Homo sapiens: one gene and its partners. The protein of the gene in region 3 interacts with the protein of the main gene of each other region in a pairwise test. Each region holds a gene or a part of one and is shown on either strand. Other genes may lie near its edges.

The links. Proteins that work in one complex are often made in the same cells at the same time.
Region 1: the proteins of CAMK2B (region 3) and RXRG interact in a two-hybrid assay, tested with the Homo sapiens proteins (one study listed by BioGRID).
Region 2: the proteins of CAMK2B (region 3) and MGAT5B interact in a two-hybrid assay, tested with the Homo sapiens proteins (one large-scale study listed by BioGRID).

What each region holds. Positions count from the first base shown.
Region 1 is NC_000001.11:165,437,509-165,442,704, reverse strand, and holds part of RXRG (retinoic acid receptor RXR-gamma), read left to right. Parts: intron 1-5,196. UniProt on the Homo sapiens protein: Receptor for retinoic acid. Retinoic acid receptors bind as heterodimers to their target response elements in response to their ligands, all-trans or 9-cis retinoic acid, and regulate gene expression in various biological processes.
Region 2 is NC_000017.11:76,940,826-76,946,021, forward strand, and holds part of MGAT5B (alpha-1,6-mannosylglycoprotein 6-beta-N-acetylglucosaminyltransferase B), read left to right. Parts: coding exon 1-23; intron 24-3,277; coding exon of another isoform or gene 3,278-3,349; exon of another isoform or gene 3,350-4,432; intron 4,433-5,196. UniProt on the Homo sapiens protein: Glycosyltransferase that acts on alpha-linked mannose of N-glycans and O-mannosyl glycans.
Region 3 is NC_000007.14:44,216,378-44,221,573, forward strand, and holds the end of CAMK2B (calcium/calmodulin-dependent protein kinase type II subunit beta), read right to left. Parts: intron 4,525-5,196; coding exon 4,449-4,524; coding exon of another isoform or gene 4,445-4,448; intron 4,334-4,444; coding exon 4,239-4,333; intron 3,918-4,238; coding exon 3,685-3,917; 3' UTR 3,683-3,684; intron 3,146-3,682; 3' UTR 777-3,145; downstream 1-776. UniProt on the Homo sapiens protein: Calcium/calmodulin-dependent protein kinase that functions autonomously after Ca(2+)/calmodulin-binding and autophosphorylation, and is involved in dendritic spine and synapse formation, neuronal plasticity and regulation of sarcoplasmic reticulum Ca(2+) transport in skeletal muscle.

The DNA of each region.
Region 1 (5,196 bases), on a different chromosome or scaffold from region 3:
AATATTTTCTTCCCCTCTATTTTACTCAGAGACTAACATGCAAAATAGTTAAAAATCAGACATTATTGTAAAATAATAAATAAGGAATCTGGGAAAATAAAATTAAATCCACAAAGACCCTCATATTTTGCTGGCATAGATTTTCATAATTGTGGGGGCTCTGATATTTAGCGTAATTAGATTTCAGATAGAAGTAAACACAATGGTTCAGCTATGGAAGGAAATAGTTCAGTATAGTATAGGGAACTTGAGGGGAAAGGGTCATGTAGGTTGTCTACATGTCTCCTGTAAAGCTACTTTTCTTTGTCATTCTTGAGGGAGGAGAAGAATTATTTTGTTTAGTTCTGTTGAGGTTTTCCATTTTGTTGGCATGTGCCAGTTAAGAGGAGGCCTAAATGCTGAGCCAAAGGACTCTGCCCCCGTCTGCAGGGAGGTCTGTTTGAGAACTTTCTGTGATGAGGGAGAGGGACAGAGGACTCACAAGCAGGCACAGGGGAAAGCAGGATTAGAGTGGACGTCACCTTTGGCCTCTAACCTCCCCTGCCACAGTGCAGCAAGTTGCACGGCACTTATTAAAATACTTGGTGTATAACCCCCTGCCCTGTTACATATTAGCACATGGAATTACAGAGGGCCCCATGATTTGTATAAGAATCTCCAGGGAAGCAAAGTCACCTTTTGGAAATAACACCTGAGATTTGTGTCTGGGACCATGCTTACCAGATGTCAGAGCATCATCTGATCAGTGAGCAACAGATTGCTCAAACTGGCCAAAGTGTGGTGGCTACGTGGTGGCTCCACAAAGGTGCCCAATCTCCCAGCTTTGGGCCCTACCATGTAATGATGAGAGAAACCTTCTCTTCTCCTTCTCTGCCAAGTCCAGGGTTTGCCAGCTGCTCAGTAATAGGTTTGTTTTTCTGGGATGAGACAGTTGCTGCCTCTTAGAAGATGGCAAAACAAAGCCTGTAATCCCCCCCATCCAATTGTGCAGTAATCCTCAGGGTGAGAAGGAGATCAGGGAGAGAGAGGACTTCTCTCATTTCATTTAACAAACACACTGTAACACTAATGCTCGCTACTATTGTAAGCACTTTACCAGCCTCGGCTCATGTAATCCTCATAACAACCCTAGGAGTAGGTACTGTTACCATTGTTCTCGTACTCCTTTTAGAGACAAAGAAACAGAGGAATTGAGAGGTGAAATAACTTGCTTAAGGTCTTATAGCTAGAAAATGGCACAGCCAGGGATTGAACCCAGGCAGACTAGCTCCCAGAGTTCACACTGCTGAGCTGCCTCTCACAGCTTCTGTGAGTGACACAGTTGCTCTGCAAAGCCAGGGGCAGCAGCACACCCCCAGGGAGCTCCCGGTGCTCCAATACAACCTCAGATATGCAGCCTCAGCACTGACTGGTTGTTGCAGACCCAGTGGACTGGCCATTGAGGAATAAGCCATGGGATAGGTTAAGAGCAACGGTGATCTCTGCAGAATTAATTGGTGGCTTCCCTTGGGTACATACTTATTTGCAAGAGTCCTGTCCAACTGACCCTGACCATTCATGTAGAATAGTTGCTTTCACTTGAAAATAGCCATAGAGAAGGGGTTGAGTTGGACCTGCTTGTATGTGTGCGTGTGCACATGTGTGTATATGCTAGAACATATTTTTCCCCTCCACAGATATGTGGGTGGCTAATTGGAACCTATCATGGGCATAAGTGGTTAAGGTTTATGTGGAAAGGAGTAACTGTTTATGAGATTTAGGAAGGAACATATTTCGTATAAACTATTTTCTAAAACATTTACAATCTCACCAAGAGATAGAGAGCTGAATAGCAACTGGGGGAAGAAATTGTGCAAAGAGAATCTAAATGCCCCACCTCTTCCTTCCCCTCATTATGAAGCTTCTAGGTCTGCAGAGAACTTAGCCACCAGCATTGGATCGCGGGTGTGCCAGGGGCTCCCAGAGGAAGCTGGTGTTTTCTCCTCTTTTTAAAAGTAGAAGACACAGAGGCCCAGGGAATGAAGTTAATTTTCTAGAATGCATGGGCTTTGGTGGCTCTCATGAGATTGACTCAGCCCTGGCTCAGTGATCCTCAGAAAAAAGTGAAAATACAGGTTGAGTATCCCTAATCCAAGCATCTAAAATCTGAAATGCTTCAAAATCCAGAACTTTTTGAATGCCAAAATGATGCTCAAAGGAAATGCTCGTTGGAGCATTTTGGATTTCAGATTTCTGGATTATAGATGCTCAATTGGTAAGTATAATGCAAATATTCCAAAATAAAAAAAAATCCTAAATCCAAAACACTTCTGGTGCTAAGCATTTTGGATAAGAGATACTTAACCTGTATCAACTCGTTTCATAACTAAAACACCACTTTAAGGTCGGTAGTTTTATTACCCCCATTATACAGATGTAAAAACTGGGGGACAGAGAAATTAATAATTTGCCAAAGGGAACTTGGCTAATAAATGATAAAAGTGGCATTTGAATATGAGGAAAAGCAGCAGATCTGGATTTTAATCCCAGCTCTACCATGTACTATACTGTACTACTCTGTAAATTCTTACAGCAGTTACCCAGCACAGACCTTCCTGCCCCTTCCCAATTCAATACTTGGCCTCTCCCAGGATTTTGACCCTGGCCTTTCTCACTAGAACACTCCACATCTTGACTCTATCTCTTCACAATTCAACCCCTAGTTTGGGTTCCCTTCCTCAGGGCTCCCAGCCCAGCCTAATCTTCTTCTCCCTCCTCTTTCCACATAACAGCCACTCAGACACCAGGGATTAGCTAATATGCATTTCTTATATTTGAATTATTATCAGCATATTCAAGGGGACTTTCCTATAAACATTTAGGCTGCACAATCACCCTGAGATGGAATGGGAAGGTATTTTATAACTGTTTTACTGGTGCAAAGCTTTACATTTTAACCGATGTAGAAAACAAGATGTTAGACATTAAATTTCCAGTGAATGGGGAGCAGAGAGAAGCTTTCTTCTGATGGGAAGGAAACCTTCTCTGCTATGGAAGCCCTTTCTGGCTTCCTCAGTGGGGAAAAATCAAGGAATGTGTTGGAGAGTGGAGAGCATGTAGAAGAGGCCCTCCTTCTGCCCCCAGAGGCTCAGGCCTCTCAGCCTCTCAGTGGGAATGTGAGAATGAAAGCATGCATTAGCTGATGGGTTGACGCTGCTGCATGCTTCACGCAACCCCAGTTCGGACCAGCTGGCTAGCCTTTCGAAGCCGCACAGGGCAGTTCCACCTGGATTCATGTAGCCCCCAGAGAAGGGCTGATGAGCTGCTCAGGGTGGGAGCTGGGGTTGCTTCCGGTGCTTGAAGGAAGGGGGAGGGAGAGAGTGGCATCCCTGCCTCTCTCCCTCTCCTCCACCCCCCTCCTCCCCTCGCTCCCACTCCTCCCATCTTCCTCCACCCCCGCCCCCCTCCCCTAAAATCTGTAATGATGGAGGTAGTGAAAAGCAGGGAAAGATTGATAATCAGCCTCATTATTACCAGCATTATATATAATTATAGCAAAACCTCACTCATTTGGATCAATTGAGAGAAAAATCAGTCTAAATTCGTGACAAGTTGGCAGATTACTTTTAAATTACAATTTTATTACTTCTAAGTAACACATGTGAACAGTTTGTGTTTCAAGTACCACAAGCTAATGGTTACTCAGTGGGGATTTTAGAAAACCTGCTTTAAAAGATTCTTTTGTAATTAACACCCCGTTAATATGCCAATGTGCTCCTTCTATGCTTTTTAAATTGCTTGAAAACATATGTATCTTAAATAGGCTTAACATTTCTACCATCTTATTTGCTTAACAAACCTTTTTTATTATTATTTTGTGAATGAACAAATACAAACTAGTTTATACCATGACCAGTTTAGTCACCACTCTGAATTAATTATGTTGTAAATTAATAAGACCATGTTGGTTGTTTTTGTTTAGAAATCAGACTTTTAGAACTTGAAGAACCACCTCATTTTATAGAAGAGAGGTTGAGAGACTTGCCCAAGGCCATATAGGCAAAAACAGCAGGTCTTCTGGCCCCTGGGTCCAAGTTTATTCCGTCTGCTAGATAATGCCTTACATTCCTAAAACTCTTTATGAATATGTGCTATTTATTTCCATACCAATCATTGGGTTATCTGTCAAAAAATATTTGGTGAGTGTCTATTCTGTGCCAAGCCGTGTGCTTAATCCCCATATAATGGGGATAATAAAACTACGGACCTTAAAGTGGTGTTGTAGTTATGAAATGAGTTGATGCAAGTTAAGTATCCCTTATCCAAAATGCTTAACACCAGAAGTGTTTTGGATTTGGGATTTTTTTTTTATTTTGGAATATTTGCCTTATACTTACCAATTGAGCATCTATAATCCAAAAATCTGAAATCCAAAATGCTCCAATTAGCATTTCCTTTGAGCATGATATTGGCATTCAAAAAGTTCTGGATTTTGAAGCATTTCAGATTTTAGAGGCTTGGATTAGGGATACTCAACCTGTATTTTCACTTTTTTTCTGAGGATCGCTGAGCCAGGGCTGAGTCAATCTCAGCACAACAGATAGAGGGGCCCCTCCTGGAGGCCACCGTCTATTTCATTCAAACTTCAAACTGACAGTGTAGTCCGTAAGGCGGAAATTATTCCCATTAGACAGATTAGGAAACTGAGGTTTAGAGTGATAAAGTGGCCCTTTTAAGGCCTGCTGCAAATTATTATAGATCTAGAATTTGAGTCTAGTCTAGCAGAATTTCTGTGAACATTTCTGCATATAATGAATGACATTTTGCTTGCACACCACCTTTCCCAGCCAGCACCAAATTATAGACCTTGCTAGTACAGATGGATATTATGCCATCTCTAACAAATGAGAGGCTCCAGGGGATCCTGCTAACGAGGACCGGCTGGCTGTCCCTTTAAGCCAATTCCGTATACTGGTACATCATGTACCAGTTAGTCCATGGAGGCAGATGTCAATGAGTGTTTGAAGCAGATGCCAATGAGGGTGCCCCCAGTTCTCCTCTCGTTCCTAAAGTCCTTGAACATCAATTATGTGCACACCCAGCTCTTGAATCCATGACCTCTGTCCATTACTGTCTCTGGATTTCTTGTTCAGATAGGCTCTCTCTATCTGAACAGGGCAATCTCTATAGATTGTCTTCTAAAGACGGCAGTCTCTT
Region 2 (5,196 bases), on a different chromosome or scaffold from region 3:
TCAAGGCCATTATGAGAACTCAGGTGAGAGCAGCCACATACAGTTGAGACCCCCCACTAGTCCACACTGCTGGTCTTCACTCTGATTAGAAAACGGTGCCCCCCTCTGGGTGAGTTCAGACTTGCAGGCCTGGGTTGGCAAAGGTGTCCATCCCTCCCCTGGTCAGACACAGCCCTGAGCCAGGGCATGTGGATTGGAGAATGGAATGGGGGATCCCATTCATCTACTCAGGTGTGATGTGTGGGGAATGCCTTTGTGCAGTGAGCAACCTGCACAACCTTACATGGCAGCCCTGGATCTCAAATTGTTTATGGAGCACTTTTGAGGGCCAGGTGCTAACTGAATGTTTTCACGATGGATGTGTGGAGGTTCTTGAAACTGCTGCAGGTGTGGCTTTGCAGCCTTTACACAGCACATTTCAAAATATAATGTGCATACAGAGCGTCTGTTAATGCGGGGCAACGCTTCGAGTAGCAAGGGGGCAGAACACCCTGGGTCTCCAGCGAACGTGGGTGCTGGTGTGTGTAGGTGCACATGTGTGGGCTGGGTGAGAGTGAGGAGGGGCTTGTGCCTGATGCTCATCTCCGCAGTGGACATGTTTGTGGCTTTTGATCGTGCCTTGTGCTTGGCTGGTTCCTTCATTCTGGGGAGGCTCAGACCTGGTGAACGAGAGAGCCTCCTCTCACTATGGTTCTCCTGGATCCCCTTCTTGCTATAGCTCAGATGATAGGCTGAGCAAAAATAATTGCTCCAGGCCGGGAATGGTGGCTCCCGCCTGTAATCCAGCACTTTGGGAGGCCGAGGCGGGCAGCTCACTTGAGGCCAGGAGTTTGAGAGCAGCCTGGCCAACATGGCAGGTTTCTCAAAGTTAGGGACTGTCTGAGATTGGATTCCTCCAGGAAGTAACATGAAAACAGGGATTTTAGCAGTAGCTTATTTGGGAGGCAACCCCAGGAAGCAGGCACGGAGGTGCCAGGTGAGGCAGGGTGTGTATCAGCAGGTGGCACCTGGAGCTCATCACCACGGGGGCCTCTGCAAGATGGGGTAGGTCACATCCCAGAGCTGTCCTGCCCGAGGAGAAAGAGGCTAGGGTAGGTATCCTCCTCTTCCCATCCATCTGTGGCTGAGGGTGGTGCCTGGGATGCCAGTTCCTGACACTTTTGGCCTGCACACAGATGGGCTCGGCAGGCCAGAGACAGCCTTGAGGTGGAGTCACCGGTGACGGAGGGTGGGGCGCTGATGGCCCTGCTGCAGGGAGAGGTTGTGTGACCTTGTAATGCTGGATCCTAGCAAAGCACCGGCCTAGACAGAGTGGGGAGGGATAAAAAGCTCCCTTGCTAGCTCTCAACGCAGTGTTGTCCCCTGTCCTGGGCTGGTGGCTTAAGTTCTGGCAAGGCCTTGTAGAGCAAAAGCAACTAGAGGCCAGGAGCAGGGGCTCACACCTGTAATCCCTGCACTTTGGGAGGCCGAAGCGGGCGGATCACTTGAGGCCAGGAGTTTGAGAGCAGCCTGGCCAACATGGTGAAACCCCATCTCTACTAAAAATACAAAAAGAAATTTAGACAGGCGTGGTGGCACACGACTGTGATCCACCAAGAGGCTGAGGCAGGAGAATCGCTTGAACCTGGGAGGTGGAGGTTACAGTGAGCCGAGATCATGCCACTGCACTCCAGCCTCGGTGACAGAGCGAGACTCCATCTCAAAAAAATTTTAAAAAGATAAATAGGAACTTGGCCCCTTGGCCACGCCCTAGGAAGAGGGCCAGGTATTTGACTGGTACCAGCTTATAGGCTTAAATGGGGCTAGAAGTACCAGTGCCAGGAAGGAGGCCTTAGGTAGGGACCTCAGTGCATAGGAAAGAAGAGTGAAGGGGGTTAACTGATTAATTTCACTGCTGGAAACTGACCAACCCCAGCCCCCTGCACGGGGAAGCTGGCAACAAGGCGTACAGGTAGGCAAGGGGGCTCCTGTCACCCCACAGTCTCCTCCAGCTTCTTCTCCCACTTCTCCACCCACCTCCCTCTGCTCTCCTCCCTCTCCCCTCCCCTTGCAAACCAATCCTCTAAGACTTCTCCTGCAGAGGGGCTCGGGCAAGGCTGGGGAGGGGGACTACATAGACTTTTCCAATGTGGGGAGCAGCGTTTGGCCCAACCTCCAAGACACATTGTTAAGCTAAAAGAGCGAGACACTCCACCTTGGGGATAACTTGCCCCCCCGGGAGGCCCAGAAAGCGGGGTCGGGGGAGGGCTGTGTGCATGAAGGTGCTGCGATAGTCGCGGGTATTTCTGGTGGGACACACAAGAAATTGATAACTGGGGGAAGGACTGACTGTCTGCGGTGAGAGGAAACTTCCCTTTCATTGCTTTCCTGTTTGGTTTTTTTTTACATGAACATCTGTTTAATTTTGTTAATTAGTTAATTAAAAAATAACAATTACAAAAGGATTAAGGAAGCAAGGTATTGCAAATCTGACCAGCTGAGATTTGTGCTGGGCCCCAAACCAACGGAGGCCCCTCTGCCTTCAGACCCCTCCCTTCTGTGGGCCCCACCCCTCCGCATAACAGCTCACCCCCTCAGCTCACAGCAGCTCAAAAACATTTATGTGCCCAAGAGTCACCCGGGGGGAGGGCCTTAAATGCAGATCCTCGAGCCTATCCCGCACCTTCCCATTTAATAGGACCCAGCTTCGCGTGGGAATCTGCATTTTAAACAAGAACTCTGGGTAATTCTAATCTTCCCATTTTATTATTTTTTTAAAATTTTCTTTTTATATTATTTGAATAGAGATGGGGTGGGGTGGGGGGGGGGTCTCATTTTGTTGCCCAGGCCAGTCTCGAACTCCTGGGCACAAGCAATCCTCCCGCCTCGGCCTCCCAAAGAGCTGGGATTACAGGCATGAGCCACCATGCCCGGCCTAATAATTCTATTTTAGAAAACAGATTTAGGGACAGCTGGTGGAGGCTGAGAGCAAATGAGGGCTGCCATCATGGGGAGTGGCTTGTTCTGCAAGTCATGTGGCCTTTTACAGGGAGAGGGAGGGAGGAGCGGCCAGGATGGGGAGAAAGAGGTGAGAAGAAGAGGTGAGAAGAGGGAGGTCTAAGACACAGCGAGCCGGCCCCGGGCCTGACAGCCATGGAAAACCAGGGCCCGGCACCCCTTCTGTGTCTCTGCACCTCCCTGGGTTTGCCTGTGGACATCTCTGTGTCCAGAGCAAGGCCATTCAAGGTGATGCCAACACTGGCTTCCGCTGCACCCCTCCCTGCTGTCATTCCCGCAGGCCAGCAGTTCCCAGGCAGGATCAGCACCTGTCACTCTGTCGAGACTGATTAGGGCGCACACCTGTAATTAGACCTAATGGGGGTAATTTCCAGGCCAGGCAGGCTGGCTCCTCCGGCAGGAGATTCGTGGCAGGCGGAACGTCGTCGTCGTCGTTGGCCGTGAGTGTTTGCTTCACACAGGGACCTTTGAATTATCTTGTGACAAGGGCTTACAGACACAGGAGCAAGAGTAACTCAGAGATTTGCTGTCACGGAGCCGGGGAGCGGCATTTGGAGGGGAAAGCTCTTCTCTGGGGAGTTTTATTTATAACCTGAGAGTGAAGCCTTGTCCCCGCAAGACCCCCAGAAGTGTGTGGGGCTCAGAGGCTCCCAGGACTTCGTCATGAGTGTTTAGGGAACCAGCTGGGGCAGCAACTGGCTGCCAGGGTCTTCTTGGGCCATCGGCTCGGGAATGAGAGCAGGTCGGGACAGGGCTGTGCAGAGCACGGGGCTTCAAGGCTGGGCTGGGGATGGGACCTGCAGATTCTCCGGGACTTCGAACTTGCCCCAGCGTTGAGAATACCCACGCACAGTGCAGGGGGACGTCAGTGCTGGGGCAATGTCCGGCTTCAAGGACATCAGTGACTGCCGCTTCCCTGGGACCCTTGAGTGTCAGGGATGTCCCCTTGGCCAGAGGCCCCAGGACGAGTCTCCTAAGAAGTGGGGTACACAGAAGGCAGGACCGAGCTTGGCGCAGTTGGACTTTCTAGCACCACCCAACGCTGATGAGGAAGAAAGGAGGTGGTTGCAGGCTTGAGTCAAACAGTTAGATTTCACCCACTGGCTAAAGACGGGAAAGCGGCCTCATTAGGAGATGGGCTGGGCCAGGTCAGGTGCCACCAGGCATGGTGGGGTGGGGAGGTTGAAGCCTAAAACAGACCTTTCTCTGAGTCCGGGATGGCTCCTTCCTGAGTCCTGACTGCTGCCCCTGCCCTTTCAGGTCAGTGATTTTCTCCACGGTGGCTCTGCACTGGGCCTGAGAAGGTTAATGGAACAGGAAGGGGTTGGTTGGTTAAGAAGTCGGGGGGAGGCAGGAGTACCCCCTTACTCCTCTGTCACTCTTCCCTCCACTCCCCTGGTTTCTTTTACCCAAGCTACTGCATGCATCTGCCCACAGGACAGGTTGCTGTGTGACTATTAGATATTTATTTATTTATTTATTTTTGAGACAAAGTCTCACTCTGTTGCCCAGGCTGGAGTGCAATGGTGCAGTCTCAGCTCACTGCAACCTCCACCTCCCAGGTTCAAGTGATTCTCCTGCCTCAGCCTCCCAAGTAGCTGGGATTACAGGCACCTGCCACCACGCCTAGCTAATTTTTTTTGTATTAGTAGAGCCGGGTTTCACCACGTTGGCCAGGCTGGTCTTGAACTCCTGACCTCAGGCGATCCGCCCACCTCGGCCTCCCAAAGTGCTGGGATTACAGGCATGAGCCACCGTGCCGGGCTAACTATTAGATATTTAGACAGACAACCTGTGGCCTCTGTTTGGGGGTTTGTGCCTGTGGGGGCAGGGTACTTTACAAATGTCATCTCATTCCCGCTGACTGGGAGATGCCCCTGTGTTCCTCTGCATGAATGTCCCATGTCTTGGGCAGGATACAGGCAGAGCTGGGGATGCCTTTTCATTCCATGACTATTTCCTGAGCACCCACTGTATGCCAGGCACTGTGCCAGGCACTGGAGATTCAGTGTGAACAAGCCATAGTCCCCACCCTCAAGGTGTCCATAAGTTTATGAGAGACATGACGAATACACAGGAGACAATAACACAGGGGCTCATTCTGTGCTGGGGGAAGTCTGGGGTGCTGGGAGTCACCAAGGAAAGTGTTCCTGTAACAGGAGTGGGGGTGGGGCTCAGGGAAAGCTCCCTGGAGCAGGT
Region 3 (5,196 bases):
CTCAGGGGTGCCTGTCTCCTTCACACCCAGGACGAAGTCCCCAAGCCTGGCCTGGCCCACAGGCCTGTAGCACCTGGCCAGTCTGGCCTGGTATCTGGCTTCCCTGTCTCCATTCCAGCTCTCTGTCCTGGATTCTGGGCTGGTTGTGTGGCCTCTGCTGGAGCCTCCTGGCCCCCATGGTGGCTGCCTACTGTATCACCTTGCGCCTTGCCTATGTCTGGTGCCCGAGGCTGATGTCCACACAGGCCTGCGTGCCATCTGTCTGCATAATCCACTGGGGTGGAGCCCGGCTCTGTGGTCACTGTGTGTCCTCAGCATCCAGAATAGCCAATACATGTAGCAGGGGCGGAAGGAAACAGCAGGACAGCCAGAGGTCTTGGTCCTGGGGCTCCTTCCTGCCCAGAGGCTGCCCTGGCCACATCCTTAGCGGCCACCGGGGGTGAATGGAGAGGTCAGGGGTGTTGGGGGCTGGGATCCAGTTTCAGTTCCAGCATTCAGGGTGGACAGCGCTGGGCCCAGAAGACTTCAGAGGACCAGAGGAAGAGGTGGAGACAGCTGGTAGAGCTATGATCTATGACTAGTGCCCTACCTGGGGTGAGCCGTTCACCCTAGAGGGGCTCAGGACTGTCAGGGCCAGCTCAGGGCTCCCATAGCACTACCTTTCATTGGAGGAGGGGCCCAAGTAGGGTCTTGGCCAGGGACCGGGCTTGAGTCTGTATTTTGGCGCAGGAGGTCGGCAGGATTCCAGCTAAAGCACCCAGCTGCACTTGAAGCAGTTTGTCCTGTTTTTCTTTTATTTGCAGTTTCCCGAGACAGAACAAAATAAGAATAATTTTTGTACACTTACAAGGCTCAGAAAGAAAAGACAATGAAACTCAGCAAAAAGAGAGAGGAGGGGAGGCCAGCCAGCACCGTGGGCAGCCGACCCCTTGCAGCGCTGGCCAGCGGCCGCCACCACCACACCGCGGACACCTAGCTAGCAGACCGGTGTGGCTTGCTCTTTAGGGGTCATGCAAAAGAATTATCCCCCAGAAAAAAAATCCCCAAATTATCCCAGACAGGCAGCTCCGTGGAGGTGACAAGGTGAGAGGGAGAGGAGGGGAGGAGGCCCCAGGACGCCAGGGTGGCCGGCTGCTGGGCCACGTGCTGTCCGTGGTGAGCCCTGCCGCTGTCCCATGGCCCAGGGAGCCACTGGTGCGGAGCCCGGCAGATGTTTACCCTGTGTTCATGGATGGGGACAGCTGTCCTGGGCACAGCGTGGACGGAAGATGGTGTCCACTCTGAGTGTTCATCGGTGGACAGTCCCCTTGGAGTTTAGGATCCTGTGTCCTGTTCCCCATTCTGTGCCCCTCCCTTGGCTTGATTTGTAGGGGAAGATAAAGAAAATCCTTGTTGAAAACAATGTGAATTGAAAGTGGGCAGGCACTGGGGCAGGAGCCCCTGACCCTCTGCAGTCAGGGCTTGTGACCACCCCCACCCAACCTGGCTTCAGACCCACCCTGCAGCCCCACCATGCTCGGGCTTGCCCTGTCCCCGAGCTCCCCCATGGTACACACCATCACAAGGGGCCGGGGACCCACCGCCTCGAACCCAGGCAGCCGACGCTCAGGAGCACAGGGCTAGACCCTGCCCTCCATCCGCTGGTGTCCTGGGCCCTGTGCCCACCTGTTTCTGTCCCCAGCCCGCCTTATCTCCATAGCTGCATCCCTGGCCCACCTAGAAGGTGCCCTCACACGCACTGCAGCCCGCCAAGGCACTGGCACACCTGACACTGCACGGGCAGCACTGCCCTCACGCCTCCCATGTGCCCTAGGCTGGCTCCCACTGTAGCTTTTGCTCCCTTCTGCTCCCGGCCCAGATTCCAAAGGCACTCCCACTTCAGTAAACCCCTGCACAGACCCTTGTCTCAGCCCAGAAGCTGGGCAGCCACCACCTCTGATCCCGCTCTGCCACTAGCTGCACCACCCGACCAAACCCCAAGCCCCAGGCTTCCCCAAACCCCATCAGCAGACGAATATGCCCAGACACAAAGCCTGGCCTCCCCTCCCAGCTTCAGCTGGGGGCTCAGGGACTTGAGCGAGGCCCGCAGTCCTTTGTCAAAAGTCTGCTCCCCCTTGCGGGCTGCAGAGAAGCCGAACAGGCTGGGGGAGGGCCGAGGGGCGGAAACAGGGTTGGGAGCTGCCAGTGCATCTGCTGCTGGCCAGCAGAGAAGGGACAGACACCTCACACAGGAGGGGGGCCAGCCCAGGCAGAGTCCTCTTGCCACAGCTGGCTGTGTTGGAGCTGTAGCCAGCAGTGCTGTCTCTTGCTCGGCGAGAGGCCCAAAACTAAGCTGTGCCCCTCTTTGCACTTTACTCCCCCAGAAGGACCAGAGCTGGAGCCCTGGGTGTGTAGGGGCATCTCTGAAGGCCTTGGGGACGGGACTCCAGTTTCAATACTCCAGGGGGTGAGGGGCCGGCCTGGGCTCTGCCGAAGGGTTGTCCGTGCTGGGTGTGTGGGGATACCGGGCACGGAAAACCCACACCTAGCCCTTCAGGGGATGAAAGGAAGGGAAGGGAAAGCAGGAACAACAGCAACTCTCAGGCACAACTAGCGGGAAAGGAGGCAGCCCAGCGGGCCCCCACAGCCCCTCCCAAGAGACAGCTGACAGTCACGACAGCCAGCGAGCACACCACGTGGAGCCCATGCGTTGGCAGGAGGATGCAGACACCTTAGGTGTGGGGTGTGTGCGTTACCTACAAACTAACACCGTTCAGCACGCGACGGGGGCCTGGCAGACAAGTTCATGTCCCAGCTGGTCCCCCAGAGGCCAGGAGCACAGACGGACACACGTGGAGCTTGGGTGGGGAGTGGCCCCACGAATGCCAGTGATTTTTACAGCTTTTTCCTTCCTTTAGTTTTTTTTGTTTTTTTTTTTTTTCATTTCATCTGATGTCAATTTTTTTTGTGGTTGTCGTCGTCATCTTGTTTTTTTTTTTTTTTTTTTTGTTTTTTTTTAACAAATCACATCTGGTCTTGTTTTTCTGCAGACACAGGCACCAGGGGAGGGAACGAGGCAGACACAAACATGCGACAGGCAGGCCGTGTGCCCGAGGGCAGTCGGGCTCCAAACACCAACTCTGTCCGGCGAAACCAGGGCGCAGCTCTGAAATGGGGCGGGTGGGTCAGCTCCTCAGCAGCCCCCTCTCCCATCCACCCCCAGGCTCTGCTGTCTGCCATGCGGCACTGCAGAGAGGGTTAAAGTCCAGAAAAGGGCCCACTCGGGAGAGAGGTTCAAGGTGCCCAACCCAATTACTACTATCCCTGTAAAACTGGGCTCTGGGCCCGCTGCACCCACCACCTGGGGAACGCCCATCTGGGGCTCTAACAGTCCTCACAAACAGGGCATGGTGCCCAGGACTGTGCTGCCCGGGGCCCATCCACCTGCAACCCACCCAGCTCTGGCCAGTGTGGACTGCTCAGGCCCTCACCAGCTCCCCAGTCCTCTGGGGAGGCCTGCCACACCCAGCCTGCCGTGGTCCCTAATTTGACATCATTCCTGTGGCCTCACCAGGAAAGCTCAGGGACTTCCCAGGCATGGCTCTGCACAGGCCCCACCGCTCCCCATCGCCTCCCCAGGCTGCAGCCACTCACACCACCGCCACCCCTCTGCCCCAGCTGTCACTTAGCACAGAACACTCACCTTCACTGCAGCGGGGCCACAGGCGCGCCCGAGCAGTGGAAGTGCACGTTCTGCCACTTGCCGTCGCGGCGGTGCCACACGCGGGTCTCCTCAGACTGGCTGGTGCGGGGCCGGCCCTGCCCGTCAATGTACTGCGTGAGCCGGATGTAAGCGATGCAGGCGGCATCCTCTCCAATGACGTGCACGTGTGGGTTCAGGATGGTCGTGTGGATCGGCTTGCTGTTCTTGGCCAGCACTGTGGACAGCAGGCGGGGCGGGGGTCTCGGGTTACCATGACTGCCCTGGTGCCCGTCTTCCACCCCACCAGCCTAATCCTTTCCCTCTCTCAACTCCCCTTATTGGGGAGGCTCGGCTCTCCTGGGAGCAGCATGGGCCCCTCCAAGAGTGGGATTCTGGGGGCTGGGTATGGCCTCTGGCGGGGGAGAGGTGGCTGGCCAACCCTGGGCACAGAGGGGACAGGGCTTCCATAGGCAGCCACCATGCTGTCCCTGGGAGGGGCCGAGAGGCTCTCCTGGGGGCACCGCCCCCTCATGCCCACCCGGGCTTCCTCACTCACGGTTCTCGAAGTAGAATCTGTGGAAGTCCATCCCTTCAACCAGGTTGCCCAGTGCTTCAGGCTCAAACGAGGTCAGCCCTGGGTCACAGATTTTCCTGGGGGCCAAATCCAAGTGAGGAGGGGCCCCGTGGACCCCTGACTCTGAGCAGGCCCCCCCAAGGGTCCCACATCCTTGTCCTGCACAGCCCCCCCCCAGCCCCAGGGACTCACGCGTAGGCCTCAAAGTCACCGTTGTTGACGGCCTCGATGAGCTGCTCCGTGGTCTTAATGATCTCCTGCTTCCGGGCTGTGGGGAGACATGGCCAGGTGACCACTGGGCGCTGGCCCATTCCCCCCGGACCCCTCCACACAGCCCAGGGGAGGGCCTGGGGGAGCGCGAGCTGCATCCATGCCGTGTTCCTGCCGCTATTTGCAGAAGAGGTCCTCTCCGCCGCCCCCCCTGCATCACCAGTGGCTTCCTCATTTTCAAGTGCAACAGCTTCCATCTTATTTTTCTTAACTAAAGTATTTTTGAAGAACAGAAATATTCTATCCACATTACAAAATGCCTGGAAAATGCAGAAAGAGGACAAAAAACCCACCCACAATCCACTTGGAGGTCACCTCCTGGCCCCACGTGCTGTCCGCCACAGTCTCCCTCCTGCCCTCCCGTGAGCCAGCCCCTGGGCCCACCAGGCCTGGCCCTGCGCTTCCCTGCAGCTTCCCGGCCCCACTCTCCTCCCGAGCCTTGGGTTCTTAGTGCTTCCTTCACCCAGCAGCTCTGGTGAGGGGGCTACTGAGTGCAGGCACCAGGCGAGAAGGCAGAGACCTGCCTCAGAGAAGGAGCCGTCAGCAAGGCCACCCGGAGGCCGGGGAGGAGGAAGCAGCAGGGGGCGGCCACGTGCGGCGCAGGCTGCAGGGTTCCCCGGAGCGATGACCAGGGCTGTCCCCGCAGCAGGAAGAACGAGCGTGGTCTCTT